Regions from separate parts of the Homo sapiens genome. Here region 1 is linked to region 2. Evidence: fine-mapped expression QTL. A gene starts in region 2. The other region holds a variant in brackets. All regions are shown on one strand. Distances are from middle to middle. Region 1 has its middle 28 kb from the start of HYAL4. Region 2 holds the start of ASB15 (ankyrin repeat and SOCS box containing 15).

Region 1 (15,975 bases), 220 kb after region 2:
TGGCTGTCCTCCAAGTGCACTGCGTGCACTGCTTCCCTTGCAGCAGTATTCTTTCTTTCTTTTTTTTCTTCTTCTTTTTTTTTTTTTTTTTTTTGAGACAGAGTCTGACTCCGTTGCCCAGGCTGGAGTGCTGTGGCGTGATCTCGGCTCACTGCAACCTCCACCTCCCAGGCTCAAGTGATCCTCCTACCTCAGCCTCCCGAGTAGCTGGGACTATAGGCATGCACCATCATGCCTGGCTAATTTTTGTATTCTTTTTTGTAGAGACAGGGTTTCGCCTTGTTGCCCAGACTGGTTCAGAATTCCTGGCCTCCAGTGTTCTGCCCCCTTCAGCCTCCTAAAGTGCTGGTATTACTTGTGTGAGCCACTGCCCCCAGCATTTGCAACATTCTTTCTTGCATTAAGTACATTCATATCATTGTAGCCATCACCACCATCCATCTCTAGGACCTTTTCTTCTGCATCTCTCTTACCTGCTAGTTGTGTTCTCTCTCACCTGTCACATCCCACTGGACAGGGAGGGAGCAAGTGTCCCTTCCATTAACAATTTATTGAACAGCCCCAGTTGATTGAAGCATATGCCATCAGATCAAACTGAAGAGCAGACTAAACCCCTCAAAGTTATAGTCACCTACAGATCCTTAGTCTCAACAACCAGATTTTAGCACTTCAGTCACTAATTAGGTTTATAAAATTAAATTCAAAGTTTAGTAAAAGTTAACTCTTTTTTCGTTCTTCTGGATTAAATCTGATGGAAGAAAATCTGCCAGGAGAAAAGACAAGGAGTGTTTCACTTCTTCTCTATCCCTTGCCAAGTGCTTTTCCCCAAATACTAGGTTGCTTCTGGTTCCTGCATGGTTGAAGTGTGGGTATCAGTGGCTGCAAGAGAAGCAGCAAATGTTTACTTGACAGGTGTCAATCTGAAATTGGCTCTTTAAAGCTGACTTTCTTCTTGTGAGGGGTTTCATGGCAAAATGAATGAAAAAGTTGAAAGACAACAAGAAACTGGAAAAAAAAAACCCGTGTTACTTCATACTATAATATTTGGTGTAATTACCATAATATAGTTCACAATATATTTAAGAAACTCCTTGTTGGTCACATAGATGTTGTTTCTAGGATTTTCTATTACAAACATAGTAGCAGTGAATGCAATTGCATCTATAACTTTCTTCATTCAAGTAGACTTTACTTTTCAGAGCACTTTTAGGTTCCTAGCAAAATTGAGCAGAAAGTAGAGAGACTTGTTGTATACTCCCTTCTCCCTGACATCACAACCTTCCCTGCTATTGACATGTCCCACCAGAGTGGTACATTTATTATAACTGATGAACCTACATGGACATGTTCTTATTATCCAATGCCTATAGTTTACATTAGGGTTCACTCTTCGTGTTGTGCATTCTATGGCTTTTGACAAATGTATAACGGCATGTATCCACCATTAAAGTATTACACAGAATAGTTCCACTGCTCTCCAAATCCACTGTGTTCCACCTATTCATCTGTCCCTCTCCCCAACCCTTGGCAACCACTAAATTTTTTTATTGTCTCCATATTTTTTCTTTTCCAGAATGTCATGTATAGTTGGAATTGTACAATTTGTAAGCTTTACAGATAGTTTATTTCACTTAGTAAGATGCTTACTTAATTCTCTTAGTAATATTAAGTTTACTCCACATCATTTCAGTGCTTGATGGCTCATTTCTTCTTAGCACTGAATAATATTCCATTATCTGGATGTACCACAGTTCATTTATCTACTCACCTACTGAAGGACATTTTGGTTGCTTACAGATTTTGGCAATTATGAATAAAGCTTCTATAAACATTCTTGTGCAGATTTTTGTGTGGGTGTAAGTTTCCAAGTTGGTTGGGTAAATGCCAAGGAGCATAATGATTGGATTGTATGGTAAGAGTATATGTAATTTTGTGAGAAATTGCCAAACTGTCTTGCAAAATAGCTGTAGCATTTTGCATTCCAATTGGCAATGTATGAGAGTTTCCTGTTGCTACACATCCTCACCAACATTTGGAGTTGGAATTGTTCTGGATTTGGGCCATTCATTAATAGGCATGTAGTGGTGTCTCATTGCTGTTTTAATTTGCAATTCTCTAAGGACATATAATGTTGAGCATCTTTTCATATCTGTATATCTTCTTTGATGAGATGTCTGTTCAAGCCTTTTGCTCATTTTTAAATCTGTTGTTCATTTTCTTGTTGTTGAAATTTAAGAGATTTTGTATATTTTAGATAACACTTCTTTGTTAGATATGTCTTTTGCAAATATTTTCTCTTAGTCTGTGGCTTGTCTTCTCATTTTCTTAACAGTGTCTTTCACAGATGAGATGTTTTTAATGAAATCCAGTTTGTCAACTATTTCTTTCATGGATTGTGCCTTTAGTATTGTATCTAAAAAGTCATCTGCTTGTCTAAGGTAATCTAAATTTTCTCCTATATTATTTTCTAGGAGTTTTATAGTTTTATATTTTACATCTAAGTATTTATACCTTTTTTGTTGTTGTTGTTGTTGTTGTCGGAGAGGGAGTCTCACTCTGTCACCCAGGCTGGAGTGCGGTGGCACAATCTCAGCTCACTGCAACCTCCATCTACCAGGTTCAAGTGATTCTCCTGCCTCAGCCTCCTGAGTAGCTGTGATTACAGGTGCACACCACCACACGTGGCTAATTTTTGTATTTTTAGTAGAGATGGGGTTTCACCATGTTGGCCAGGCTGGTCTCAAACTCCTGACCTCGTGATCTGCCTGCCTCGGCCTCCCAAAGTGCTGGGAATACAGGTGTGAGCCACTGCGTCTGGCTGGTATCTATACCTTTTTACAATGTGTGGAATTATGTTGCTTTCCCCACTGCTTCACTAGACCTGGCTACTTGCCTGAAACATATCAGATTTGTTGAACAAAAATTCAAGTGTATGTGTGTATATATGTATGCATGTATTAGTATATATATTTTATAAGTGGAAAAATGTAGATCTAGTTTTATATTTTGAATAATAAAAATAGCTAGAAAAAATAAAATCTCAGCAGCATGTAGAAAGAATTCATTATATTTAAAAATGCATACCATTATAATGCATATTTTTGTTACTGTAGTAGAAGTCTGTTATAAAATGTAGACTAGGGACCAAAATAATGCCAAAATAATTTTTCCATAGGCTAGCTAGAAAAATAGATGATTGTGTATCATTTATATACATGGAAAACATAATGAAAATCTCCTAGAAGAGGAAATTTGTAACAGTATTTTACTAAAGTACAATATTTTGTATTTTTAGGCCCTTTGGCTCTAAAAAATTTATTGTGATATGACATTTTAAAAAGGTGTTTTTTGTTCCCAAGGGTGTCAGTTTATTAGGCATATATATACGCAATGTGCAGTCATGACCAGAGGGAGGTAAAGAATAATATTTATGGAGAGTAGATATTCTTTCATTTTCCCTGAACAACAAATAAAGAATGAAGAAGATTTGCCTTTATATTTTTGTGGGGGAGTGGGAGTCAAATTAAGATCCCATGATTAGAGAAGAGTGATGGGAGAAAAACCATCTCTGATAGCTTAGAGATTCATCTGGTGCTATAATACACACTCCACATGAAGGCAATTGTCTCAATAATATCCAATTTATTTAAAAGAGTAAATTATCGTTCACATTTGTTAATTTAAAAATTCAGTGTACAGAGAGCATACGACTTGAACTCAAGTTTCTTTACAAACTTGGGGTGCTATGTTGTGAGAGTTAGCGTACAATTTTGGTTGGTGTCTTTCCTGAATTTAGTACGTTAAATAAAGACACCAAGAACTACATGAGAAACAATGTATGATTCTTAAAAAGAAACTGAGTTTAATTATATCAGAGAAAAATCTGTTTAAAATAAATTCCTTTATTTAAAAAAATCCATACGATAAGATAATTTTGATATGTAACTGAAACCATATTGCTTTCAGGATGAGATCTTGTTGGCTGGAATGCATCAACTATTAGATAGTCCTTATATTCTGGGAAGATTCTTTGGCAGTTTTCGTCCCAACAGACTAGTTAAAGGGGCCTAAAGAGACAAGTTTTATTTAGGGTTTAACTGCTGAATATACAATCCAGTTTCTTTATAGGAAAACCACTGGAGTTAAAGAACTAATAGGATTTTAGGCTTGTTTATATGCCTAAGAAGATGATAGCACCAAAATCCATAATCAACACAGGGTAATTAACATTTCTACTTGTTTTTTATTTCAGCCTATGCTAGTTCCAAGGGTAACTGCTCTCTGTTTTAAAAATAAACATTTGAAGCCAGTGCATTTCAAATTGCATGTAAAGTATTACTTACTGTTAGTACAGTTAGTTATTTCTTTTTGTTCTATTTAATATTAGTTAAAATCCCAATATTTGTTAATTTTCAAGTGGGCATGTTCTTGGAGTCACTTTGTAAGTAATCAATAAGGAGATATGACAATCCATTCAGACTTCTTTTCTAGTTCCTCTTAGAGCCAGTGAAGGCTTGTCAGTACAAGAAGGTTTGGGTTAGCGTATTCAGAATCATAGGAAATTAAAACCAGAATGGCTAGCAGCTAGAGTTTGCATAGCTGACAAATGTGTGAAACTTTTTATAGTTTTTATTGAGTATATATTTTTTTCACATTTCACTATAAATTGGCATAGATATTAATAAGCCTCAAAGATATTTTAAAATATTTGGTCTATTCATTGTATACCACAAAACTTAAGAGACATTTGACTCCATTATGTATGATATTTTGCTTATTATTTTCAAGGAGACTGCTGTAATGCTGAAAACCTCAAGCCATGTGTAACCCATGGGTGGCGTGGTTAGGAGTGCTACCACTCTTTATCCTATTAACTCAGGCAGCCCTCAAACCAGCAATGCCTCCGGTGATCAAGAGCCAGCCTTTCAACATTTTCTGGGCAGCCCCAACAATGTATTGTATGCCTTCCTTCAACGTGGATATAAATCTTCAAGTATTTAACATTATATCAAATCCTTTAGAGACTCAGAGTGGGTCAAAAATTGCCATATTTTATCCAAATGAATTAGGGTATTACCCTTACTTATCTCAAGATGGAAAATCCTTTAATGGAGGAATACCGCAGAATGTGAGCCTTTCTGAACACCTTAGGAAAACTGCTGATGACATTGGAGAAGGTGTCCCTTGGTGGAGATCAGAAGAACTTGTTGTTATTGACTGGGAAAGTTGGAAACCCCAATGGGATAGAAATCAGGGCAGCAGAATAATATATAAAAACCACTCTTTAGCCTTCACTAGAAACCATCATCCTTATTGGTCAGAAATGAAAGTGGAAACAGTTGCCCGAGAGGAATTTGAAAATGCTGGAAAAAATTTCATGAACATTACTCTCACATTGGCTTTAGAAATGAGACCAAAATGTTTATGGGGCTTTTATCTCTATCCAGACTGCTACAATTATGATTACAGAATAAATCCAGAGACGTACACAGGTAATTGTCCAAATTGTGGCTGTGGGAAAAAAGCGCAGCACTTTATCCTTCAATACATTTGGATAAAATACTGAAGTCAAGCTTAAATGCTTTGAAATTTGTTCACTATCGAGTTAGAGAAGCCATGAGGGTTGCTGAAATGGCTAGACATGACTATGTTTTGCCAGTTTTTATTTTTTCCAGACCATTTTATTTGCATAGTACTGAAGCTCTGTCACAGGTAAGGAAAAGCACAGTCACTCACATTTAAAAAAAATGGAAATTTGGTAGAATAACTATATAAAGCCTATACATAAATGTTTTAGGATATTTATTTTCCCTTAGCAATACAATGCTGTTCTCTTATTAAACATGTATATTTCTTCAAATGTCAACTCAATTCTGAAAAATGTCACTGACAATTAGATGTACACTTAACACTTTTGGATAATGATTCTTACCAGCTTAGCATTCACAGGAGTTTCCTACAGAACAGAGGTTAAACTTGATTTAAATAATGTAACAGACAGATTAATTTTAACCAGAGAGAAATTTTAGAACTAACTTCTTAATATGAAAAGGTAACAGCAATTTTCCAAATCAAAAACGTGCAACATAGAGCTTAGGGTAAATTATTAACCAACTACATTTCTCATTATATTGCATTTGTATGTTTTAATTAGCTAGGCTAACTAAAAAAATTACATAGGTTCTCTTGATTTTGTCTTTAACAGTCAACAATGCAATCTAGTGGTTATTGTCAAGGCATTAAAACTGGTTTATATAAGGAGACAGATATTGTCTTTAGACTGAACACAAAGCTGGAAGCCTACAGATGTGGAGATGAGCTTGTTTAGAAGATAATAAGTTTGAAGACATGGCAAGTGTCCAAACTTTAACTAGATTGTCACATAGGACATTCTTGTAAGGATTCAATCATTGGATAGGTGGCTAGATAAGAAAATCCTCAAATCTCCATCTATACCTGAGAGCCAACAATACTTTATGCCAGTACCCAACACAGAAGCAGAGCTGTTGTATGGACAATACACAGCTCACTTAGACCACTTAGGTTTGAGATAAGGCCATTTAAAAGCAGTAGCAATTCTTCCTAAATATTTCAGAATAAAATCCAATTATTAATTAGACTTGACATATTCATCTTTGCAGGATTACTCAGTATTATTCAGAATGGGCTATTCATTCAATAAGTTTAGAAGGAAAAGAATCATAGCATTATGACAAAAATTTGGAAGAATCTCATGGGCACTAACCCATCTCCTACCCAAATAAAAACCCTTTCTTATACTTTAACACTTTTTGATGGGGGCACTTCTTATATTAGAAGGGAAACTGCCATTTGGGGGAAATATTAATTCCTAGAAAGTTTTTAAGTATATTTAATCTACTTTGCCTCTTAATAACTTCATACCACTAGTTCTAATTCTACCTTCTGGTGCAACATAGAATACAGCAAATCCTTCTTTCAAAAGCCAGTTGTCCAGGTATTTTAGGATATCAGGCCTGCCTACCAAAGTCTTCTTGCTAAGGTATTCCTCAAGTGATGCCAGCTTTCTCAAATCATTTTACTATCTTAAATCCTTTTCAGAAAAATAACCTGGGTTATATTTATTCATTGAGAAATTCTTGAGTGCCTACCTTGTGTCAGGAATTACATGTTATTAGTAATAACAGTAGAAAATAATAATAATTCATGCAGTCAAAGAGTTCACCTTGAGAGAAAATGGGAGAATGAGATGAGCCACATTTTCATAAAAGCCTTGTTCATTGCTTTCCTATTTTTTGTACTATTGGACTTTTTAATCTTTTTTATTTTTAATTTTTGTGGGTACATTAGACTTTTAAAGTAAATTATATGCTAAGTATCACCTCTGAGCTCTACTTGAGAAATCAATAGACTGCATTCTCTACTCACCAAAATATATAGAATCACCTGAGCATTATATTGAATTGTTTTAATTGCCTTCCATGTATCATATATCAAAAAACAGTATGGGTTTTTCTCACCTTTGGTCTAAGTAACATAACTTTCCAACGCATTTTTTTTTAAACCAGTCCTGTTTGGTATTTGCTTTCAGGAGTGTCTCAATTAAAATAAGCGACTACATTTAGGTTTAAGGAATGTGATATTAGTCAGTATAATGGAAGAATGATTTCCTTTCTTGTTGTATTACTTAGACAAATTGCAGAACATAAATGCCAGTATTGCTGAAACCTTCCTATAACGCAGGAAAGCTTACAGTGGCGTGACAATTTACTCATTGCAGTCTGTGAGCACTCCACCTTTGCACTGGATCTCTGACTCTCCATACCTTGTAGGGGAGAAAAGAATGCAGATTGCACCATTGGTCATCCCCTTTATCTCCCATCTCTCCCTATTTCCTACTTCTTTGCTCTTGGCCTATATACATTAGCATAACATCCTCGGTTTCTTATCTTTATGAACTGTAATCTATATAGTCACCCAATTTGAAAGTCACTTGGCTGCCTCCCTTTTCCTCTTTCCATTATCGGATGGGTAACTAAAACTTATCCATCTTTATTTCCAAATAACTCTTCAATCTATTCCCTCTGCTTTACAAGGATTTACATTGCCTTTGTTGAGGCATCATCATTTCTCACCGAACAATTTCTATCACCTCCTAATTGGTGTTCCTGCCTGTACTATCTTGACCTTCCCCTCCAATGCATTCTTCTTCTTTTTTTTTTTTTTTTTTGAGATGGAGTCTCGTTCTGTCACCCAGGCTGGAGTGCAGTGGTATGATCTTGGCTCACTGCAACCTCCGTCTCCTGGGTTCAAGTGATTCTCCCACCTCAGCCTCCTGAGTAGTTGGGATTACAGGCGTGTGCCACCACGCCGGCTAATTTTTGTATTTTTAGTAGAGACAGGGTTTCACCATTTTGGTCAGGCTGGTCTCGAACTCCTGACCTCAGGTGATCCACCCGCCTCAGCCTCCCAAAGTGCTGGGATTACCCATCTTCCAATGCATTCTTTATATGCAAAAAGAAAAAAAAAATCAAAGTTGCAAATTTGTGTCTTTCCAGCACTAAATATTTAACATTTATTTATGTATTTATTTATTTGAGATGGAGTCTCGCCCTGTCACCCAAGCTGGAGTTTAGTGACAGGATCTCGGCTCACTGCAACCTCCGCCTCCTGAATTCAAGAGACTCTCCTGCCTCAGCCTCCCGAGTAGCTGGGATTACAGGCAGGCACCACCATGCCTGGCTATTTTTGTATTTTTAGTAGAGATAGGGTTTCACCATGTTGGCCAGGCTGGTCTCGAACTACTCACCTTGAGTGATCTGTCTGCCTCGGGCTCCCAAATTGCTGAGATTACAGGCGTGAGCCACTGCACCTGACCAGTTGTCTTAACACTTTAAAACAGCATTTTTCTCTTTGTATTTGGATTCTGTTTATACATAGAAATTCATATGTTTTTACTTTCCAAATTCTGTGTGCTTTACCACAAGGAAGTACTGGGAGTTCTCTGGATG[G/T]ACTGTGATTTTGCCTGGATCTAAGTCTCTGCTCTTATTCTTCCTGTGGATATAAAACTCTGCTCTCTCTAGACTGTCTTGTGAATTCATACTCATTCTCAAGAGTCTACTGATTCTCATTCCCAAGAGTCATATGAAATTTAACGTGTTAAGGAAGCCTTCCCAGACTCTTCCATGAAGTATTAAGCACTTCTAATTTATATATGTTTTGTGAGTGCTACTAATATAAAAATTATTATGTTATAGTCACTTGTTTATATGTCTGTCTCAACCATTAGACTAAAAAGCATTCCTTCAAGAAAAGGAATTGAAATCTATTTCATTTTTATATTCTCAGTGTTTAGAATATTGCCTGGAACATTGTAAATATTTCTCAAATAAATCTAAGAATCCAAGGCAGTATCACCTTTTCCAATTCTGGTATGGTCTTTTGTTTTATTTTTTGTATGATAGCTTTATTTAAAAGAAATGCCTTTTTTTCTGTGTATTAAAATTTATATTTTAATTGACATATACAATTGTATGTATTTATCATATACAACATAATGTTTTGAGGTACATATACATTGCAGAATGGTTAAATCTAGCTAATTAACAAATTCATGACCTCACAGTTATTTTTATTTTAAGAACATTTAATATCCACTCTCTCAGCATTTTTCAAGAATACAATATGTTGTCATTACCTATAGACACCATGCTATACAATAGATCTCTTGAACTTATTCCTCCTATCTAATTGTAATTATGTATTCTTTAACCAACATCTCCTCAATCCCCTCTCCCTCCTAACCACCTCAGCCTCGGGTAATCACCATTCTACTATCTACTTCCATGAGATTAACTTTTTCAGATTCTATCTGAGTGAGATCACGCAGTATTTACCTTGTGGTACAGTCCTTTGTTTTGGAAACAAAGATATCATTATTAACGTGTTCCTTACCACAGTTGAGGGATTGAGTCTTATTATTGCATTATCACTGACAAAATTTGACTTGGTGGAAACTACTCCTGATACCTCTCTTTTCTAGGAGGACTTAGTGCATGCAATTGGCGAAAGTGCAGCATTGGGGGCAGCAGGAGTAATATTGTGGGGAGGATATGAATATTCTGCTTCAAAGGTAAGCAATGATTTCTCTGTCAGCAACTTGAATATACTTTTGAGATTGGTTTAAAAACATTTTTTTTTTCGCATCAGAGTCAAATGGTTGCTGATTATCTGCTTACTTGACCTTAGTGAAATTCAAAAAGTACAGGGTCTAACATTGAGCACCTACTCCATACCAGCCATTGTGGTTAGTAGAAGGGTAGAAAGAGCACAATCATTCTAATCAGACAGCTAAGTGAGAAACTGATGTTTATGTCCTAGGGGTGTAATTTTGAGCATGTTAGTTAACATTTCTGAGTCTCAGCTTCTCCATCTAAAAAATTAGACTAAAATAAAACCTCCTCTGCAGGATTTTGGTAGATTAAATGGCATAATATATATGTGACAAACAAAAAGTAATAAATTTTAAAAATGAATAATTATTTCATTTGCACTGAGGGCAGATTCTCCAAAAATGATAAATAATTCTTTTTTTTTCTTTTTTTTTTTTTTGTGAGGCAGTCTCACTCTGTCACCAGACTGGAGTGCAGTGGCGCAATCTTGGCACACTGCAACCTCTGCCTCCCAGGTACAAGTGATTCTCGTGACTCAGCCTCCTGACTAGCTGAGACTACAGGCATGTGCCACCATGTCTGACTTATTTTTTTGTATTTTTAGTAGAGACAGGGTTTCGTTATGTTGGCCAGGCTGGTCTCAAACTCCTGGCCTTAAGCTATCTGCCCGCCTCAGCCTCCTAAAGTGCTGGGATTACAGGCATGAGCCACTGTACCTGGCCCAAAAATGATTCTTTACTTTGCTGATTACCTATTATAGAAATGCATGTGGGAGAAAAATCTATTTGTATATAAAGGTTTATTAACAATCTACTCTGTTCTGGCTGGGCACGGTGGCTCACGCCTGTAATCCCTGTAATCCCAGCACTTTGGGAGGCCGAGGCAGGTGGATCACTTGTGGTCAGGAGTTCGAGACCAGCCTGACCAACATGGAGAAACCCCGTCTCTACTAAAAATACAAAATTAGCTGGATGTGGTGGTGCACACCTGTAATCCCAGCTACTCAGGAGGCTGAGGCAGGAGAGTCGCTTGAACCTGGGATGCAGAGTTGGCGGTGAGTCAAGATTGTGCCATTGTGCCCCAGCTTGGGCAACAAGAGTGAAACTCCATCTCAAAAAAAAAAAAAAAATTACCAATCCCCCTTTTATTATAAGAACACTTAATATGAAATCTACCCTCTTAAATTTTGGAGTGCTTAATATATTGTTAACCATAGACACTATGTTGTACAGGAGATCTCTCGAACTTGTTTATCTAGCGTAACTAAACTAGCATATCTCGGACTTATTTATCTAGCATAACTGAAACGTTACAACCTTTAAATAACAATTTCTCATTTCTCCCACCCTCAGCCCCTTACAACTATTACTGTGTTCTTTGCTTCTACGAGTTTGGCTATTTTAGATACCTCGTAAGTAGAATCATGTAGCATTTGTCCTTCTGTGACTGCCTTAGTTCACACAGAATAATGTCCCCCAGGTTCATCTGGTTGTCATAAATGACATTATTTCCTTCTTTTAAAAGGCTGACTAATATTTCATTGTATGTATATACCGAATTATCCTTATTCATTTATCTGTCAACAGACACTTGGATTGTTTCCATTTCTTGGCTATTGTGAATAGTGCTGCAATATACATGGGAATGCAGACACCTCTTTGAGATTGCAATTTCACTTCTTTTATATATCCAGAAGTATATATGCATTTATACTGAATCATATAGTAGTTATTATAGTTAGAATTTTTTGAGGAATCTTCCATACTGTTTTCCATAGCTCTTGTACCATTTAACATTCCCATCAACAGGGTATGGGGGTTCCCATTTCTCTACAACTTCAACACTTGTTATCTTTTATTTTTTAAATAATACCCATCCTAACAGGTGTGAGGTGATAGCTCATTGTTTTGATTTACATTTCCCCAATAATTATGATTTTGAGCGTCTTTTCATATACCTGTTAGCTCTTTGTATGTCTTCTTTGGAGAAATGTTTGTTCAAGTCCTTTGCTTAATCTTTGATTGGGTTATATATATTTTTTGCTGAGTCATAGAAGTTCATTATATATTTTGGATATTGACCTCTATCAGACATATGGTTTGGAAATATTTCTACTATTCTGTAGGTTATCTCTTCATACTGCTGTTTCTTTTGCTGTGCAACAGCTTTTCAGTTTGATGCATCCCATTTGTCCATGTTTCTTTTTGTTGCCTGTCCTTTTGGTGTCATGTCTAAGGAATAATTTCCAAGACCAGTGTCAAGAAGCATTCTCCCTATGTTTTCTTCTAGGAGTTTTACAGTATTCGGTCTAATGTTAAATAAGTCTTTAGTCCAGTTTGAATTGACTTTTGTGTGTGGTATAAGATAGGGATCCAATTTCATTTCTGGGCCTACAGATATCTAGTTTTCCCAACTCCATCTCTTGAAGAGACTATCCTTTCTCTGTTGTGTTCTTGGCACTCTTGTCAAACATCAGTTGATCATATATGTGTAGGTTTACTTCTGGACTCTCTATTCTGTTCCTGTGACTTGTATATCTTCCTTTATACCAGAAACATAGTGTTTTAATTATTGTAGAATTGTAATATATATTTAAATGAGGAAATATGAAGCCTCCAGTTTTGTTCTTCTTTCTCAAGGTTACTTTGGCTGTTCTGGGCCTTTTGTGGTTCCATATAAAGTTTAGTTTTTTGTTTTCTATTTCTGTAAAAAATGCCATTGGGATTTTGATGGGGATAGCATCAAGCCTGCAGATCACTTTGGATAGTATGGACATTTTAACAATATTAAGTTTTTCTATCCATAAACATAGGTTATCTTTTATTTATGTCTCTTTTAACACCTTTTATCAATATTATGTAGTTTTTGATGTACAAGTCTTTCACTTTTTTGGTTAAGTTTATTCCTAAGTATTTTATTATTTTTAATGGTATTGTAAATGGAATTGTTTTCTTAGTTTCCTTTTCAGATGGCTCACTATTAATAGATGGAAATTCAACTAATTTTTGTATGTTGATTTTGTATCCTGCAACCTTACTGAATTTCATTATTACTTATGACATTTTTTGTAGTTTTTAGGGTTTTCTATATATAGAACTATATCATCTGCAGCAAGAATAATTTTAAATTCAGATTCATTTTTATTTCTTGCCTAATTGCTCTAGCTAGGACTTCTAGTACTACGTTGAATAGAAGTGGTCAGAGTTGGCTGGATGAGATGGCTCATGCCTATAATCCCAGTACTTTGAGAAGCTGAGGGATGAAGGTTGCTTGAGGCCAGGAGTTCAAACCCAGCCTTGGCAACATAATGTGACCCCATCTCTACAAAAGGTAAAAAAGAAAAAACTAGCCAGGTGTGTTGGTGTGTGCTTGTAGTCCTAGCTTCTCAGGAGGCTACAGCAGGAGGATGACTTGAACCCAGGAGTTCAAAGCTGTAGTGAGCTATGACTGTGCTACTGCACTTCAGCCTGGGTGACAGACTCCATCTGTTAAAGAAAAATAATTAAATTAAAATGAATAAAAGAGAAGTGATTAGAGTGAGTATCCTTGTGTTATTTCTGATGTTAGAGAAAAAGCTTTCAACTTTTCATCATTGACTATGATGTTAGCTATGGGCTTGTCATATGTGGCCTTTGTATGTTATGGCACATTCTTTCTACACCTATTGTTTTAAGAGTTTTTACTGTGAAGGGGTGTTAAATTTTTAAAAAGTGCTTTTTCTGCTTCTAGTAAGATGATCATAGGATTTTTATTTTTCATTCTGTTTATGTGGTATATCACATTTATTGATTTGTGTGTGTTGAATCATCCTTGCATCCCAGGAATAAATCCTACTTGATCATGGTGTATGATACTTTTAATGTGCTATTGAATTTGGGTTGCTATTATTTTGTTGAGGATTTTTGCATCCAGTTTCATCAGGGATATTGGCTGATAATTTTCTTTTCTTACAGCATCTTTGCCTTGCTTTGGTATCAGGGTAATGCTGGCATCATAAAGTGAGTTTGAAAGTGTTTCCTTTGCTTCAATATTTTTGAAGAGTTAGAGAGAGATTAGCATTATTGTTTTAATGTTTGGCACAATTCACTGGTGAAGTTTTCAGGTCCAGGGCTCTTCTTTGTTGGGAATTTTTGGATTAATGATTCAGTCTCCATGTTCGTTATTGGTCTATTCAGATATTCTATTTGTTTTTTCATTTTTAGTTCTAGAAGTTATATATACACACACATATATATTTATATATATACACATATATATTTTATATATATATATATACACACACACACACACATATATTTATATATATATGAATTTATTCATTTCTTCTAGGTTATCCCGAGTTACCTAGATAGTACATACAAAATAACTCTATTAATTTTCACAAAATAACTACTACTTTTCTAAAGCTGCCTTTGAGTATGGTCATCCATCCCACTGCTTAAGTGAAAATTCTGAGACCACAGCTCTTCCTCACTTCCAGGCATTAACAAACAGTCTCAGTTTCAGGAATTAAAATGTCTAGTCTTATAAAATATAAAAATAGCAATCTCTTTTCATTCAGTGTGACACAAGTTAGGATGTCAGCATTGTTAAGAACAGGAGTCCTGTGATGAGACTGCTTGAGTTTCAATGCTCACTTTTTGTCACCTACTAGCTGTGTGACCTTGATCAAGTAATTGACTTTTCAATTTCTTTATCTATACAATGAAAGAAATAATAGTATCTCTCCTATAGGACTTTTATGAGAATTACACTATTGATATATATAAAGCACTTAAAACTGTACATGGCAGATGGCAAGTGCCATGTAAGTGTTGATTATTACTTCTTACCTCTCTTCCCCACACACCAGGCTTGGATCTGAGGTGTGGAGAAGAGGGGTATGGTGAGTTCTTTTGTTCAGCTAATTCAAAGATGGGTTTAGAAGATGGGGATGAGGATGAGAAAAGGTGGCAATATAATTTTTTTAAGTTTAATGACATTAGTAATTATCTTTCCTGCTGAAAGCCTTTTGATACGGCTGCCATTTAGTGGCTGACTTTTTCTTACATGAAGCGCTGCTGCAATTTGGTTACAGGAAACCCCCTTCTCCCCACAACTCTCACCACCACCTCCTTCACCCCCGCACATGACACCATTCTCTGCTTTGAACAATGCAGGCTTTAGCTACCACCTTGAAACTTCCCCTTTACTTCTTCCCCAGAAGTACCTCCTACATTCCCTTTGCCCTTGGACTTTTCAGGAAGATGCATGCCTGGCTACCTGTGTAAAATCCACTTGGATCATGAAAATACTCCTGTACCCTTGTTCTGTTAAATTACATGAAGGCAGGCCACTCCCACTGCTGTCATCTCTCCTCAGTGTCTTTATTCCAAGAACCTGTAGCAGAGCTTTGCACATAATAATGTGTGCTGAATAAATATTTGCAGAGTGAATAAATAAACATGTCAGCCTCCAAGCTCCCAGTAGTTCCCGTGTGGTTCTAGGACAGTGCTCTCTACTTCAAATTCCTTTCACAGAACATTCCTTCTGCCCTGATAATTTCTAGCCATTTATATATGCTGGAGATGGGTAAATGTCTCTAACTCCTTAGTTGTCAACCCCACTGTCTTCAGCTTTGGGTTTCAGGTGAAATCTCTCTTTCTCTCTCTCTCTCTATATATATATCTATGATAAATCTATATATATAAAATGTATTTAGATTTTTATAAATTATATGTAAAGTTCCTGTCTTTTTTTTAACCACGTTACATATAAATGGTGTAACAGGTTTCCCCTAATTGAAGCATGTATTTGGGATGGTCTGATTAAATCCAAACTGTCA
Region 2 (15,975 bases):
TGCCTCCAACTTTGTTCTATTTGCTTAGGATTGTCTTGGCTATGCGGGCTCCTTTTTGGTTCCATATGAACTTTAAAGTAGTTTTTTCCAATTCTGTGAACAAAGGCAGTGGTAGCTTGATGGGGAGGGCATTGAATCTATAAATTACCTTGGGCAGTATGGCCATTTTCACGATACTGATTCTTCCTATCGATGAGTATGGAATGTTCTTCCATTTGTTTGTGTCTTCTTTTATTTTATTGAGCAGTGGTTTGTAGTTCTCCTTGAAGAGGTCCTTCACGTCCCCTGTAAGGTGGATTCCTAGGTATTTTATTCTCTTTGTAGTAATTGTAAATGGGAGTTCACTCATAATTTGGCTCTCTGTTTGTCTGTTCTTGCTGTATAGGAATGCTTGTGATTTTTGCAAATTGATTTTGTATCCTGAGACTTTGCTGAAGTTGCTTATCAGCTTAAGGAGATTTTGGGCTGAGACAATGGGATTTTCTAAATATAAAATCATGTCATCTGCAAATACAGACAATTTGACTTCCTCTTTTCCTGATTGAATACCCTATATTTCTTTATCTTGCCTGATTGCCCTGGCCAGAACTTCCAATACTATGTTGAATAGGAGTGGTGAGAGAGGTCATCCTTGTCTTGTGCCAGTTTTCAAAAGGAATGCTTCCAGTTTTTGCCCACTTAGTAACATATTGGCTGTGGGTTTGTCATAAATAGCTCTTATTATTTTGAAACACATTCCATCAACATCTAGTTTATTGAGAGTTTTAACATGAAAGGCTGTTGAAGTTTGTCGAAGGCCTTTTCTGCACATATTGAGATAATCATGTGGTTTTTGTTGTTGGTTCTGTTTATGTGATGGATTACATTTATTGATTTGTGTATAATGAACCAGACTTGCATCCCAGGGATGAAGCCAACTTGATCGTGGTGGATATGCTTTTTGACGTGTTGCTGGATTCGGTTTGCCAGTGTTTTACTGAGGATTTTCACATCGATGTTCATCAGGGATATTGGCCTAAAATTATCTTTTTATATAGTGTCTCTGCCAGGCTTTGGTATCAGGATGATGCTGACCTCATAAAATGAGTTAGGGAAGATTACCTCTTTTTCTGTTGATTGAAATAGTTTCAGAAGGAATGGTACCAGCTTTTCTTTGTACCTCTGGTAGAATTTGGCTGTGAATCCTTCTGGCCCCAGACTTTTTTTTGTTGGTAGGCTATTAATTAATGCCTCAATTTCAGGACCTGTTATTGGTCTATTCAGAGATTCAACTTTTTCCTGGTTTAGTCTTGGGAGGGTGTATGTGTCCAGGAATTTATCCATTTCTTCTAGATATTTTAGTTTATTTCTGTAGAGGTGTTTATAGTATTCTGATAGTAGTTTGTATTTCTGTGGGATCAGTGGTGATATCCCCTTTATCATTTTTTATTGCATCTATTTGATTCTTATCTCTTTTCTTCTTTATTAGTCTTGCTAGCTGTCTATCTATTTTGTTGATCTTTTCAAAAAACCACCTCTTGGATTCATTGATTTTTTGTGTCTCTGTCTCATTCAGTTCTGCTCCGATCTTAGTTATTTCTTGTCTTCTGCTAGCTTTTGAATTTGTTTCTCTTGCTTCTCTAGTTCTTTTAATTGTGATGTTAGGGTGATTATTTTAGATCTTTCCTGCTTTCTCTTGTGGGCATTTAGTGCTATAAATTTCCCTCCACACACTGCTTTAAATGTATCCCAGAGATTCTGGTACGTTGTGTCTTTGTTCTCATTGATTTCAAAGAACATCTTCATTTCTGCCTTCATTTTGTTATGTACCCAGTAGTCACTCAGGAGCAGGTTGTTCAGTTTCCATGCAGTTGTGCAGTTTGGAGTGAGTTTCTTAATCCTTATTTCTAATTTGATTGCACTGTGGTCTGAGAGACCGTTTGTTGCGATTTCTGTTCTTTTACATTTGCTGAGGAGTGTTTTACTTCCAATTTTTTGGTCAATTTCGGAATAAGTGCGATGTGGTGCTGAGAAGAATGTATATTCTGTTGATTTGGGGTGGAGAGTTCTGTAGATGTGCATTACGTCTGAATTCAAGTCCTGGATATCCTTGTTAATTTTCTGTCTCATTGATCTGTCCAATATTGACAGTGCGGTATTAAAGTCTTCCATTATTATTGTGTGGGAGTCTAAGTCTCTTTGTAGTTCTCTAAGGACTTATTTTATGAATCTCGGTGCTCCTGTATTGGGTGCATATATATTTAGGATAGTTAGTTCTTCCTGTTGAATTGATCCCTTTACCATTATGTAATGGTTTTCTTTGTCTCTTTTGATCTTTGTTGGTTTAAAGTTTGTTTTATCAGAGACCAGGATTGCAGCCCCTGCTTTTTTTTTACTTTCCATTTGTTTGGTAGATCTTACTCCAACCCTTTATTTTGAGCCTATGTGTGTCTTTGCATGTGAGATGGGTCTCCTGAATATAGCACACAGATGGGTCTTGACTTTTTATCCAATTTGCCAGTCTGTGTCTTGTAATTGGGGCATTTAGCCTGTTTACATTTAAGGTTAATATTGTTATGTGTGAGTTTGATCCTGCCATTATAATGTTAGCTGGTTATTTTGCCCGTTAATTGATGCAGTTTCTTCACAGCCTCGATGGTCTTTATAATTTGGCATGTTTTTGCAGTGGCTGGTACCCGTTGTTCCTTTCCATGTTTAGTGCTTCCTTCAGGAGCTCTTGTAAGGCAGGCCTGGTGTGACAAAATCTCTCAGCATTTACTTGTCTATAAAGGATTTTATTTCTCCTTCACTTACAAAGCTTAGTTTGGCTGGATATGAAATTCTGGGTTGAAAATTCTTTTTTTTTCTTTAAGAATGTTGAATACTTGGCCCCCACTCTCTTCTGGCTTGTAGGGTTTCTGCCAAGAGATCCACTGTTAAGTCTGATGGGCTTCTCTTTGTGGGTAACCTGACCTTTCTCTCTGGCTGCCCTTAACATTTTTTCCTTCATTTCAACCTTGGTGAATCTGAACACTTATGTGTCTTGGGGTTGCTCTTCTCGAGGAATAGCTTTGTGGCGTTCTCTGTATTTCCTGAATTTGAAAGTTGGCCTGCCTTGCTAGGTTGGGGAAGTTCTCCTGGATAATAGCCTGAAGAGTGTTTTCTAACTTGGTTCAATTCTCCCCGTCACTTTCAGGTACACCAATCAAACATAGATTTGGTCTTTTCACATAGTCCCATATTTCTTGGAGGCTTTGTTCATTTCTTTTCACTCTTTTTTCTCTAATCTTGTCTTCTCGCTTTATTTCACTAATTTGATCATCAATCACGATATCCCTTCTTCTGCTTGATCAAATCAGCTACTGAAGCTTGTGTATGCTTCATGCAGTTCTCGTACTGTGGTTTTCAGCTCCATCAGGTCATTTAAGCTCTTCTCTACACTGCTTATTCTAGTTTGCCATTCCTCTAACCTTTTTTCAAGGTTTTTAGCTTCCTTGCAATGGGTTAGAACATGCTTCTTTAGCTCAGAGAAGTTTGTTATTACCGACTTCTGAGGCCTACTTCTGTCAACTCGTCAAACTCATTCTCTGTCCAGTTTTGTTCCCTTGCTGGCAAGGAGTTGTGTTCCTTTGGAGGAGAAGAGGCATTCTGCTTTTTGGAATTTTCAGCCTTTCTGCTCTGGTTTCTCCCCATCTTTGTGGTTTCATTTGCCTTTGGTCTTTGTTGTTGGTGACCTACGTATGGGGTTTTGGTGTGGATGTCCTTTTTGTTGATGTTGATGCTATTCCTTTCTGTTTGTTAGTTTTCCTTCTAACAGACAGGCCCCTCAGCTGCAAGTCTGTTGGAGTTTGCTGGAGGTCCACTCCAGACCCTGTTTGCCTAGGTATCACCAGCAGAAGCTGCAGAACAGCAAATATTGCTGCCTGATCCATCCTCTGGAAGCTTCGTCCCAGAGGGTCACCTGCCTGTATGAGGTGTCTGTCAGCCCCTACTGGGAGGAGTCTCCCTGTCAGGCTACACGGGGGTCAGGGACCCACTTAAGGAGGCAGTCTGTCCATTATTGGATCTCAAATGCCATGCTGGGAGAACCACTGCTCTCTTCAGAGCTGTCAGGCAGGGACGTTTAAGCCTGCAGAAGCTGTCTGCTGCCTTTTGTTCAGATAGGCCCTGCCCCCAGAGGTGGAATCAAGAGAGGCAGTAGGCCTTGCTGAGCAGCCGTGTGCTCCACCCAGTTCGAGCTTCCCTGCCGCTTTGTTTACACTGTGAGCATAAAACCGCCTACTCAAGCCTCAGCAATGGCAGATGCCCCTCCACCCGCCAAGCTCCAGCATCCCAGGTCGATCTCAGACTGCTGCACTAGCAGCAAGCAAGGCTCCGTGGACGTGGAACTCGCTGAGCCAGGCATGGGAGGCCTAAATGACACTTATCCTAAATGACACTTGCCCTAAATGACACTGATCACTGTTTAAAAATAAGCCAGATTATTAGTCCCTAACTTAAAGCCATTCAATTCATGTGCTTGTAATAAAACCCAAGCTTTTATCCATGGCCCACCTCCCATCCCTACCATCCCTTGATGATCTTCACTTTCATTTGTTCTCTGGTTGATCCCTTCAACATGGCACATCCTTTTTGCCTCATGACAAAAAGTAAAATTAAACTTACATTTCATCTTCCTAAAAGTTTGTCCTCTATACCTTTCTGTGTCGGGTTATTCTTTGTGAAAGTTCTCAGCACAGATGTGTTCCCTCTCAGACTATCCTTTCTGAAGGAAGCCTCCCCACTTCAATGACCAACTATCGTCATGCTTATTTTCTTCACAGAGTTTACCACAATTCATTTTCTTACTTATGTAACATTCACCTCACCTACTTAAATACAAACTTTTCAGTGACAGGAACTTGATATAGCTCATTGGCATACCTAGTGCACAGCATAATACCTGGCATTGCAGATGGTCAATATTTGTTAAATACTGCACTGGTGAGAATCCCACATTCATCTACTTCTCTGGATCCTACCATTCTTGACTTTGTAAATGCTCTTTAGCTAGTGAGCCAATTCACTATCATTTCCCACCCAAAGCCCCCTTGAAAGTATTTGTCTACACTGTGGGTGAATGGGCCATATCTTCAAGACTGGAAAATTACCCAGACATTCCAAGCTGCATAAAAACAGCTTAACCAAACCTCAAAACTCAATCTGATTTAATACTTTTTATATTAATGTATACATAAAGGAAATGTAAAATTTTGCTTTATTTGAATGGTAATTACATTTTAAATCTTGAAATCAAGCCATAACTAAGCCAAATATGTAGTAAATACTTTGGGAATATTCAGAATATTTTTTCTCAGTACTTATACTGTTCTACTAAAGATAAATCTAAAACTAGCATAAATCATCACACTTTTTCTAGTTTCCCAAAGGAATTACTAAATTTACCTCTTATATTGGAAAAAAAAATTGGGGGGAGGCAAATCATGAGACCATTAAAAATTGTTTTAACATACACAAAGTGGTGGCTCCAATTTGAAATATAAAGACCTGAATCCACAAGAGGCAAGAGTGACATCTTTTAATGGTAGAAAGGATGGATTTACATTGAAATATTTAGGCCAGGTGCAGTGGCTCATACCTGTGATCCCAACACTTTGAAGGGTGGGTAGATTGCTCGAACTCAGGAGTTTGAAACCAGCCTGGACAACAAGGTCAAACCCCATCTCTACAAAAGAAATAAAAAAAAAAATTAGCCAGATGTGGTGGTGCATGCCTGTGGTCCCAGCTGCTCAGGAGGCTGATGCGAGATGATTACTTGAGCCTGGGAGGCGGAGGTTGCTGTGAACCAAGATCGTACCAGTGCACTCCAGGCTAAGTGACAGAGGGAGACCCTGTCTCAAAATAATAATAGTAATAATAAGGAAAAAATAAAGAAAGAGAAAAAGAAAAATTTGAATTTATTGTGCTAAGTTTTCTTCGTTAAATTTATATAATTTCTTCTATAGTATGTACTGTTAAAATGCTTTTTACAATCAAATATTAATTAAATGTCATTACGCATTAGCAACTTCAATTAGAAATTGAAACAAAACACAAATGCACATGAAAAGATCAATTATTTTCAGAGAGAATAGAGTACAATACTGAATTTTCAATAATTCAAAATTTACTTTGGTTGCCAATATAGAGCTTTATTTTAAGTCCTGATTATAATTAGGCTTGGTTTATATTAAATAAGGTACTAAGAATAGTGACAATCTCTTTGCCTTAGCACTACTGAGATATGTAAGAAGTCAGAATTACAAGAGACTGGAAGAAAAAGGAAGGTTCTTAAACAATAATCCCTCTTACACACGGTTTTGCTTGTTACCCTAGTCAAAAAATATTAAACGAAAAATCCTAGCAATAAACAATTCATAAGTTTAAATTGCATGCCCTTCTGAGTAGTGTGATGAAATTTTGGGTCACCCTGCTCTGTTCTGCTTAGAACATAAATCACCCCTTTGTTCAGCATATTCACTCTGCATATGTCACCAGCCTATCTGAACATTTAGTGGTTTTCCTGATTGTCAGATCAATCATGATGGTATCACAGTGTTTGTGTTCAAGGAACCTTTATTTTATTTAATGATGGCTGCAAGAATATTGATGCTAGTATGTTGTTATAATTGTTCTTCATTATTAGTATTGTTGTTAATTGCTTACTGTGCTTTATTTATAAATTAAACGTTATCATAAGTATCTATGTATAGGAAAAAAACCAGCATACATAGAGTTCTGTATTATTTGTGTTTCCAGGCACTCAGCACTGTGAGTCTTAAAGCATATCCTCCCCTGGCCAGACGTGGTGGCTCACGCCTGTAATCCCAGCACTTTGGGAGGCCAAGGTGGGCAGATCACTTGAGGTCAGGAGTTCGAGACCAGCTTGGCCAACATGGTGAAACCCCGTATCTACTAAAAATACAAAAATTAGAAGACGTGGTGGCACACACCTGTAATCCTAGCTACGCGGGAGGCTGAGGCAGGAGAATTGCTTGTACACAGGAGGCAGAGGTTGCAGTGAGCTGAGATCGCACCACTGCACTCCAGCCTGGGCAACAGAGCAAGACTTCATCTGAAAAAAAAATAATCCTTCACAGATATGGGGAAACTACTCTAGGTTGATGATCCATTAATGTAAAACCATTTTCTCTTTTCAAACTTCGTGTGTGTGTGTGTGTGTGTGTGTGTGTGTGTGTGTGTGTGTGTCTTTGTTCTCTGACCTTCTCCTCCACAGCCTTCTTAGGTCTCATCTCTCTACTTGTTTGTCTCTATACAATGGTAAGCTTTTGGGACTAGAACCACATGTCCCACCCATCATGACACTCCCAGAAGTGCCTAGCCTCACATTATGCATATACTAAAATGTGTGTCTGTATATATAGAATAGAAAACCAAATGCAATGGTTTCCCTCATGTCCATTTTATGTCCCTGGAAGTATAATATACTTTTATATCTAGACTATAAGTCCTGTATCTGTATAGGGATTATTAGTTTTTCAAAGAACTTTCATAATTATGCCCTTATTTTGATAACAATGATATGAAATAACAAGAGCAGTGTTATTACACAGTAGGAAACTGAAGTATAAACCTTTAGATATCTCTAAATGATTTGTCTTAATTCACAAAAACTGGCAGAACTTAGACTAAGATACATATTCTCTCCTTTTAATCCAAGTTTGTTTCTCTTAGATACACTTGAAATGCCTTTCACAATAGTGAAAATTAAGTACTTTGTTCGCAAAAGGAAAAACAAGAAAAAAAAAGATCAACCAGCTTTTAAAAAATTTATTGTGACTCAACCTTAATTGACTTAAACTTTGGTTAAACAGAAATAACTGCGAACCCATTTGAACAAGTCATCAGTGTTCAACAAAATATTCAACACATATTTGATGAGTGCCAAAAACTTTACTAGACAAAGTGAACTTTGAAACCCCTAACTGAAACCCCATACAGGATCTTCCTCACTGTTTGTTTGTCATTAATTTAGTATAACTACCTATAGTGCTACCTTACTAAAAAATACTATTTCCGTCACTTGCCTTTGCTTGGCTACATGGCAACTAAATGACCAGAGTAATGTCAACAACGTGGATTCTTCCAGGGGCCTGTGACATCAGTGCTGTTGGAGGAGTTCAGTGCTAATAGATTTGGCTCATGTTTTCAGTTGTTTGATTTTCAGTCTGGAAAAACAGCGTACAGCATAGCAAAAATAAACAATTACCAAGGTTCTGGGAAGCATACTAGAAATAAAGGATTTATTTTATGTTTTTATATTCTTTTCTACTGTTTTATGCCTAACCAAAATAAAATGTGCATTTCTTAAATCACTGACCCCAAGGCCAAAATAATGGTCAAGTACAAAAAAGAAAGAAGGAGAAAAAGGAGAAAGCCTGAAATATACCAAAGTGAAAATGAAGCCAAGAGAGATATACATGGGTATTGCTTACTAAACAACAAAATAAGAGGATAACTTAAAAACAACAACAAAAAAGAATACCAAAAAAACACACAAAACAAACAAAAAATAATAGGATAACTTAAAGTAGGACTCCCCAAGGTGTTTGAACAACACCATTTTTTGTAGAAGGCAAAGATAAAGCTCCAGTTCTGACAAAGCCTCATAAAGAATGGGCTGGATCAGAAAGGACTTAATAAGTGGCATTGTAGAGGGTAGATGGGATTGTATGACTAATCATAGCAAGAGCTGTTTTTTAAAATCCAGGCCTGCAAGTGCCACACTCTTTTTCAGGAAGAAAGAATACCTGTGGGCAAAGTGAGGCTGTAGCAGTGGCAGGTGCCTAAAATATGAAGGCCAAGCTGCCACATTGCTCCCTGGAAATTCACAAACAATGCTACCTAAATTTCTTATTCCCAAAATAGAAATAGGTGGGTCCAAGGACAGTTCTTCTAACACCGTGCTTCAACTATTTTAACCTAAGACTCTTCATCTTTCATATCAGTTGCTATAATTATCATTTTGAAACAGTACATGCATTTCTTGCTATATATAGATAGAAGGAATGCGTATTTGGATGTCAGTGTCATTTTGTATACCTTCCTTGGAACAACAGTAGTATTCAACTAGTCCTTCACTGTTAAATCTGACCCCTCCCTGAAACTCATTCTCACCAGACAAAACTAGAGGCACTGTTTGAAAAGCTAGGACTCATTTTGTTTCCCCTTTGAGAAAACCCACAGGAAAAGCCAGCTTTCATAGAGGCAAATGTGGAAGCGATTACTAGCATTATGAATAGATCATTCTTTCAAATATATGAGTTACTCAAAGTATGTCTTATTGTGTGTGCATAGATGACTAACTACTTGAGGAATAGGCCTCATTAAAATGGTGGTGCCATGGTCATTGTATCATCATCATCATCATCACTCCCATACTACAGATAAATAATCTCAAAAATGTAAATAATGCATCTACAGAAACAGTAAGTGGTAAAGCAAGACGTGTTCACAGGACTATGTCTTCAGTAACAGGCTCTCATTTATTTTACCACATGATCTTATTTTGGCTTTTCTATCATTATATGCATTATTTTAAATGTTGTATGGTATAGGTAGATCTATAACAACTATTATATAAACGGATAAAACAGGCATACCATCATTAGTTTAAGAGCAGAAAAGTCACTGCAATGTGTCAAGCCACACTTTAAAGTGTTAGGTGCACATTTTCCCACACATTTGCATTATACTCTAAAGCTTTATATGAATTTCTAATATTGTAAGTAAAAAAAAGTTGTATAAAATTAAAGTGTTTCACAATGCTGATTGCTTTTCACAAGAATTCTTCATTGAAAAATTCCAAATTAGATTAATAATGATAAAATGTAGACAATGTATGCAATGATCTAACTTTTACCCTTGACTATTGCAATACACAGTTAATAGTGGTTTAAACATAAAATACTTCTCAGTTTGCTTTGAAGATGACTGAAACGCACCTTCTTTTATCACAGTTAAAGAGGAGTTAGGACCTCTCATTTCACATTTACGGTTTCTCAATTTTTGAAATAAAACTGGCAAATTCACTACAATCCACGTATTTATATTCATTAACACTGAGTACAAAGAAAATGTCAGAGATGAGACGAAAAACAAAAGCGTGTAGTGCTCCCAGTAGCTTAAGAAGTAGAGAGTTTCAGGAAAAAGGGAAGAATCACTGGCAGCAAATCCAATGAGGGTTTGTAAAATAAGAAATGAAAATGAATATAAAATATGAAATGAGTTTCTAATGTAAGTCAGAAAGAGGTCACTGAGACCTGCAAAACGAGTTGTTTTAGTAGGGGGGTGTAGGGGATAGAGGCCAGATGGCTTTGTGAGTGCCGATGGTGGCCTGAGTTAATCCAAGGATAGCTGTGTCAAAACAAATTTAAGGCAGACTATTTTCATTGGAAAATCAGTAAGACAATAAACTTAATTGGTTTTTTAAAAGAAAACAACCTTCCTCAATTAAAAATCCCAATTTTTTTGCTTGTTTTATTAATACATTTGCTACTCATTTTTTTAGACTATATATGCTCAATAACTTGACCTAAAAATTCTTGATCAGATTAGATGTCACTGACTGCCCTATCTCCGTCTGTATATCAGACTAGCAATTATTAAACAAAAATCAAAGACAGCAAATTAGTATGACAAGAAGATTGTATTTAATGAAATTTGACCTGAATCTGAAAGATGGAGAAAGAAAAATAGTGTGTATTAAAATATGTCAAAAGTGGATTAGGCTCTGACAACACAAAGACTTACAGATTTGTCTCTTGAACAAATACCTTTAAATTGTGCGTTAATTCCAAGTGGTTTGGTTTTGTTCCATCAGTAGCAACACTCCCTGCAGCTGAATTGGCAGGTCCTTTGTTTTCATAAGAGTTCTTTGAACCAATCAGGACAGAGATAATCTTATTATACCTCTGTAGGCTTGCGTTTCTTTTGATGAGAGTCTAGAGAAGTCATGGGTAATACTTTACCGTGTGCCAGAGACCGCTTATGTTTCAGTTGTACAAGGTCAGGTCTTAATTTAACCACCAACTGGATACTTAATTTTAGATACACAGAAGCACACATTGGCTCCAGGGCACTTCCTCTGATTTAGGAAGGCAAGTCCCTGGATAAGAATGACAAGATGATCATTCCAAAAGGTGAGATTATGAAATATTTGATCTGTACCTCACCAACTAGCTTATTGAATAGTTCATTATTGGTAATATTTTAAACAGATTGAAATACAAATTATAGTAGCTACTCATTACTTTCTTTCCACTTGATCACCTACGGGCTTACCTGTTTAGAGCCTTTTTAATTAGAGACTAAAGCTAGAATTTGTTTGCTTATAGAATATCAACTCAATTGCATAATTACTAAGCATAAAAAATTGTATCATGAGAAAAACAGATTAAGAATGAGTATCCTTATAGAACATGTCAATATATTTACTATAGAATCCCAGAAGGGTCTCAGCTCACCTCTTGGTTTCTAATAAAAAAAATTAAATAATTTTTGTGAATAAATAAAATAAATCTTTTAAGGCTTTTTCATCACTTGTTGAAAAAGATGAATGCTTTCTGCCCAGATTGAAACATTTCTTTAAATTAGTTAGATTTTTTAAAAAATAAACCGAATAGAATTGGAAATTTACTCCTGCAAATTATATCACAAAATCTAAAGGTTGGAAAGTCCTTAAAATTTATCTGATATCGTCACTCATATTGTTCTTAAATGCACAGTTAACTTCTAAGGAGCTTTCTATATCTAAAATGATTTGACTTCCACGAAGTAAAGCAGTGATGTGGACAAGAAAAATCTTATCACTGCTTTGTGCTGAGATTATTAATTTATTGTGATAAAAATTATAATTTTACACTTCAGTTATTTTATGAGAATATTTTATCTTCAAATAGAAATTTGCCTACAAGTTTTATATTTCCCCTGGAGTTGTTCGATGAATTTGTTAGGTAGTTGCTTAAACTTTTTGAGAAAACTTTTTCTCAGGTTTATGAATTTTTAGGTTACAAAATAAGACCCTCTTTTCATTAATTCATTCAAAGTAGCTGAGTCATAGTTAGAGTATACTGGTTAAGCGTGTGTGGCCTCCATTGTCAGATGACTGGGCTATATCCCACTCTCCACTGCCCACTAGATATGTGGGCTTAGGTAAGTTACCTAATGACTCTGTGCTTCAGTTTTCTCATCTGTAAAGTGGGGGAGAATTATGTCATAGACGTTAAGTGACATCCATTTAATGCACTTAGTGTAATCCCTATCACAGGTAAACACTCAATAGATATTAGTTATAATAATTATTAAACTCAATATAAAAATACTTATTAAAGACTTGCTATGCTATGTGCTTTACTGTGTGCTAAACCTTAAAGAGAAATTGGTATTATTTCTGGAGAAAAATCTAAAATACATTATTTAAAGGCAGAAAACTCTCTGAGGGCATGGATCCCATATATATGTGTCTAGCCCTGTGCCTGGAACACAACAGACGTTGAATGTATATTTTTGCATGGACAAATAGGATAGTCTGAACATCCTTAGGAAAAAAATAATCACTAAGAATTGGTGGGTTAATTCTTTTCCTTTGTCTTTTTGATTAGCAGAGCAAAGGAATGTAGTATCATAGATAACTGTGCATTTGTATTACAACAAGGTATTTGACAATATTCCTTGATGATGGTCTTATTATCAAAAAGGAGACATTAATACTAGGTGGTGGTGTCTTTAAGAGGGTTTGTAGCTGGATAAACACCTTTTCTGGGAGGGTGCAAAATAATGGATCAATGTCAACATAGAGGCCTCTGTCCTTTGCCAATTTCTTTTCAACATTTATCTTTATCAGTGGAGCTTAAGGACATATAGAAGGCATGCTTATTAAGTCAGCAAATAAAACAATACTTGGAGAGATAGAAAATGCATTCAATTTTAGCAGAAGGAAATAAAGGCCAAATTGAAAAAATATAAAATGTAATAGGAATAAATAGAGTCCAATAGGGTCCTGCATACAATTGCACAGAAAACAACGTGGGGAAAACATACGACTTGTAGATCTTTGGGATACTGGGGTCTAAATCAAGTCTGTAACATAATAGCCTAAATATTTATCTGAACTTGGACTAAATTAACAGATGTATAGTGTTTGAGAAAAGGGAACACTTAAACTTGTGTTGGTCTGACTGTAGCTGTTGTGTTGCCTTCAGAGCCTGTGGTTCAGTGTCACTTTTAGAAAGAAATGGATAAACAAATGTGTTTCCAGGAAAGCAGTCAAGACAGTGCAGGAGGTGAGGCCATCTTATAGGAAGAGCAGTTGTCCAGCCTCTGGAAGAAAAAGCTCAGTGGAGATCTGACAGCCTTCCTGGGGGATATTAACAGGGCTCCTGTGTTGCAGAGGAACACTACTTTCTCAGTGTAGCTCTGAGAAAGAGAACCAGAAAAAGGTAAGAGAAGTAGAAACATTATCTTCAGATAATGTTTTGAAGAGTGGATTCAAGTTCACTGGTTTTCCTAATTGTGAAATCTGGCTAGGCCGGGTGCCATAGCTCATGCCTATAATCCCAGCATTTTGGGAGGCCGATGGGGGAGAATCACCTGAGGTCAGGAGTTCAAGACCAGCCTGACCAACGTGGTGAAACCCTGTCTCTAATAAAAATACAAAAATTAGCCCAGCATAGTGGTGGGCTCCTGTAATCCCAGCTACTCGGGAGGCTGGGGCAGGAGAATCACTTGAACCTGGGAGGTGGATGTTGCAGTGAGCCGAGATCATGCCATTGGACTCCAGCTTGGTTGACAGAAGGAGACTCTGTCTAAAAAAAAAAAAAATGCTGGCTAAAGAAGAAGCACCGTGTGAGGAGATAGCAAACTCCCTGACACTTTGATGTTCAAACTGAGGCTACCAATTACTTATTGGGCATGTTGTAAATAAAATTTACAGGTGGGGCTACCTGACAGTCTTTAACTCTGAAAATTGGTGATTCTAGGGAAAAGGAGGGAGAAGAAAATAAAATGGGGGTGTCAGGGTCAATATTCAAGGGTAAGGAATAGAACTAAAACTTTCAAAAAGTACTAGAATCCTACTTTCCCATTCCACAGGAGTTCAATCACAGAATAATAACAGGTAATGTTTACTGACTACTTGTGACACGTCAGACACAGTTAACCAGGCAGCTAATGCAGGCAGGTCGGCATTTGAACAAAGGTTCAACCGTTATATTCAACTGCCTCCAACAGAAAGAAATCAATGGCCTGTACATGATTTCAAAACAAGATATGAAAAAATGCAGTGACTCATTATTATTTGAATCAATTTTGAAGGGAAAAAAATTTGACTTGAGCACCAGACAGGATTGTTTGTCATGTTGAACAAAATACATTATGCCAGGAATGAATATTTTTGGAGAGAATATATGCATATATATTTGTATATGAATATTTATGTGTATATGCATAAGAATAATACTTTTTAAAATGCTCAACATCCCTAATCATTAGAGAAATGCAAATCAAAACCACAATGAGATACCATCTCACACACCAGTCAGAATGGCTACTACTAAAAAGTCAAAAAATAACAGATGCTGGCGAGGTTATGGAGAAAAGGGAATGCTTATACAATGCTGGTGGGAATGTAACTTAGTTCGGCCACTGTGGAAAACAGTTTGGTGATTTCTCAAAGAACTTAAAGCAGAATTACCATTCAATCCAGTAATCGCATTTTTGGATATACACCCAAAGGAATATAAATCACCGTACCATAAAGATACATGCACACGTACGTTCACTGCAGTATTGTTCACAACAGCAAAAACATGGAATCAACCTAAATGCACAATGACAGTAGACTGGATAAAGATAATGTTGTACGTATACACCATAGAATACTAGCCAGCCACAAAAAAGAATGAGATTGTGTCCTTTGCAGCAACATGGATGGAGCTGTAGGGTCATTATCCTAAGCAAATTAACACCGGAACAGAAAACCAAATACCCCATGTTCTCACTTACAAGTAGGAACTAAACTGTGAGTACATACGGACACAAAGAAGGGAACAACAGACGCCAAGACCTACCTGAGGGTCGAAAGTGGGAGGAGGGCAAGGATAGAAAAACTACCTATGAGGTACTATGCCTATTACCTGCATGATAAAATACTCTGTACACCAAACCCTTGCAATATACAATTTACCTATATAACAAACGTTAAGATAAAACTTAAAATGAAAGTTAAAAAAAATAATACTTTTTAAAAGTCTGGAGATATTATTTTTATTGTTACTATAGGTAATCAATGTAGTCAAAACGTTTTTTACTCACCCTACAACTCAATTGCACAAACCAAAAGTAGCTTTTTTATTGTCTGTAACTGGCCTCACCTTTCTCAGGAGCCACCACTCACTAATTAATGGAAAATAAACTATTGATTTCATGCAGACAGACACAATAACTTAGGTAATGAAGCCACTGCTTGGACGATTCAGATAAATGAATTGCTCTTTCAAATTTCTGCTCCTTCCCACGCCAAGAAACTCTCTTCACCAAGTTCTACCTGCTTTCCTGTACATTTGGGCAATCTTCTCTCTTCTCGAGGTCACCAAGGTTCCTGGCCTGCTCAGTCCTAAGAGGTAGATGCTAAGCTAATTTTCCTGAGAGGGCTTTGTAAGCTTTGCCTCTGTAAAGTCCATCTTAGTTCACTTTTCTTGTTGTTACTGGTGGTGAAAACTCTTAAAATCTACACCCTTAGCAAATTTCAAGTATACAATACAATATTGTTAACTACAGTTACATTGTTGTACATTAGATTTCCAGAATTTACTCATCCTGCTTAACTGAAATTTGTACCCCTTGGCCAGCACCTCCTAGCCCCAGGCAACCAACATTCTACTCTTTTTTCTATGACTTCAACTTTTTAGATTCCACAGATAAATATCACAATATTTG

Evidence for each region. PIP is the estimated chance that this variant, and not a neighbour inherited with it, causes the effect.
Region 1: its variant is the best candidate, but not a certain one, in a credible set for the expression of ASB15 in skeletal muscle (GTEx, PIP 0.81).

Annotation. Positions count from the first base shown.
Region 1 is chr7:123,809,320-123,825,294 of GRCh38, forward strand. It overlaps a transcript of HYAL4 not described here and the pseudogene HYAL6P. Among named protein-coding and RNA genes, the nearest start is that of HYAL4, 28 kb to the right of the region's middle. The variant G/T (reference allele first, on the strand shown) is at 8,991.
Region 2 is chr7:123,590,735-123,606,709 of GRCh38, forward strand. It overlaps ASB15 (ankyrin repeat and SOCS box containing 15), which reads left to right and starts at 11,087. Exons shown (of 12, transcript NM_001290258.2): 1 at 11,087-11,180; 2 at 13,298-13,478. It also overlaps a transcript of NDUFA5 not described here. RefSeq lists an enhancer at 4,041-4,335.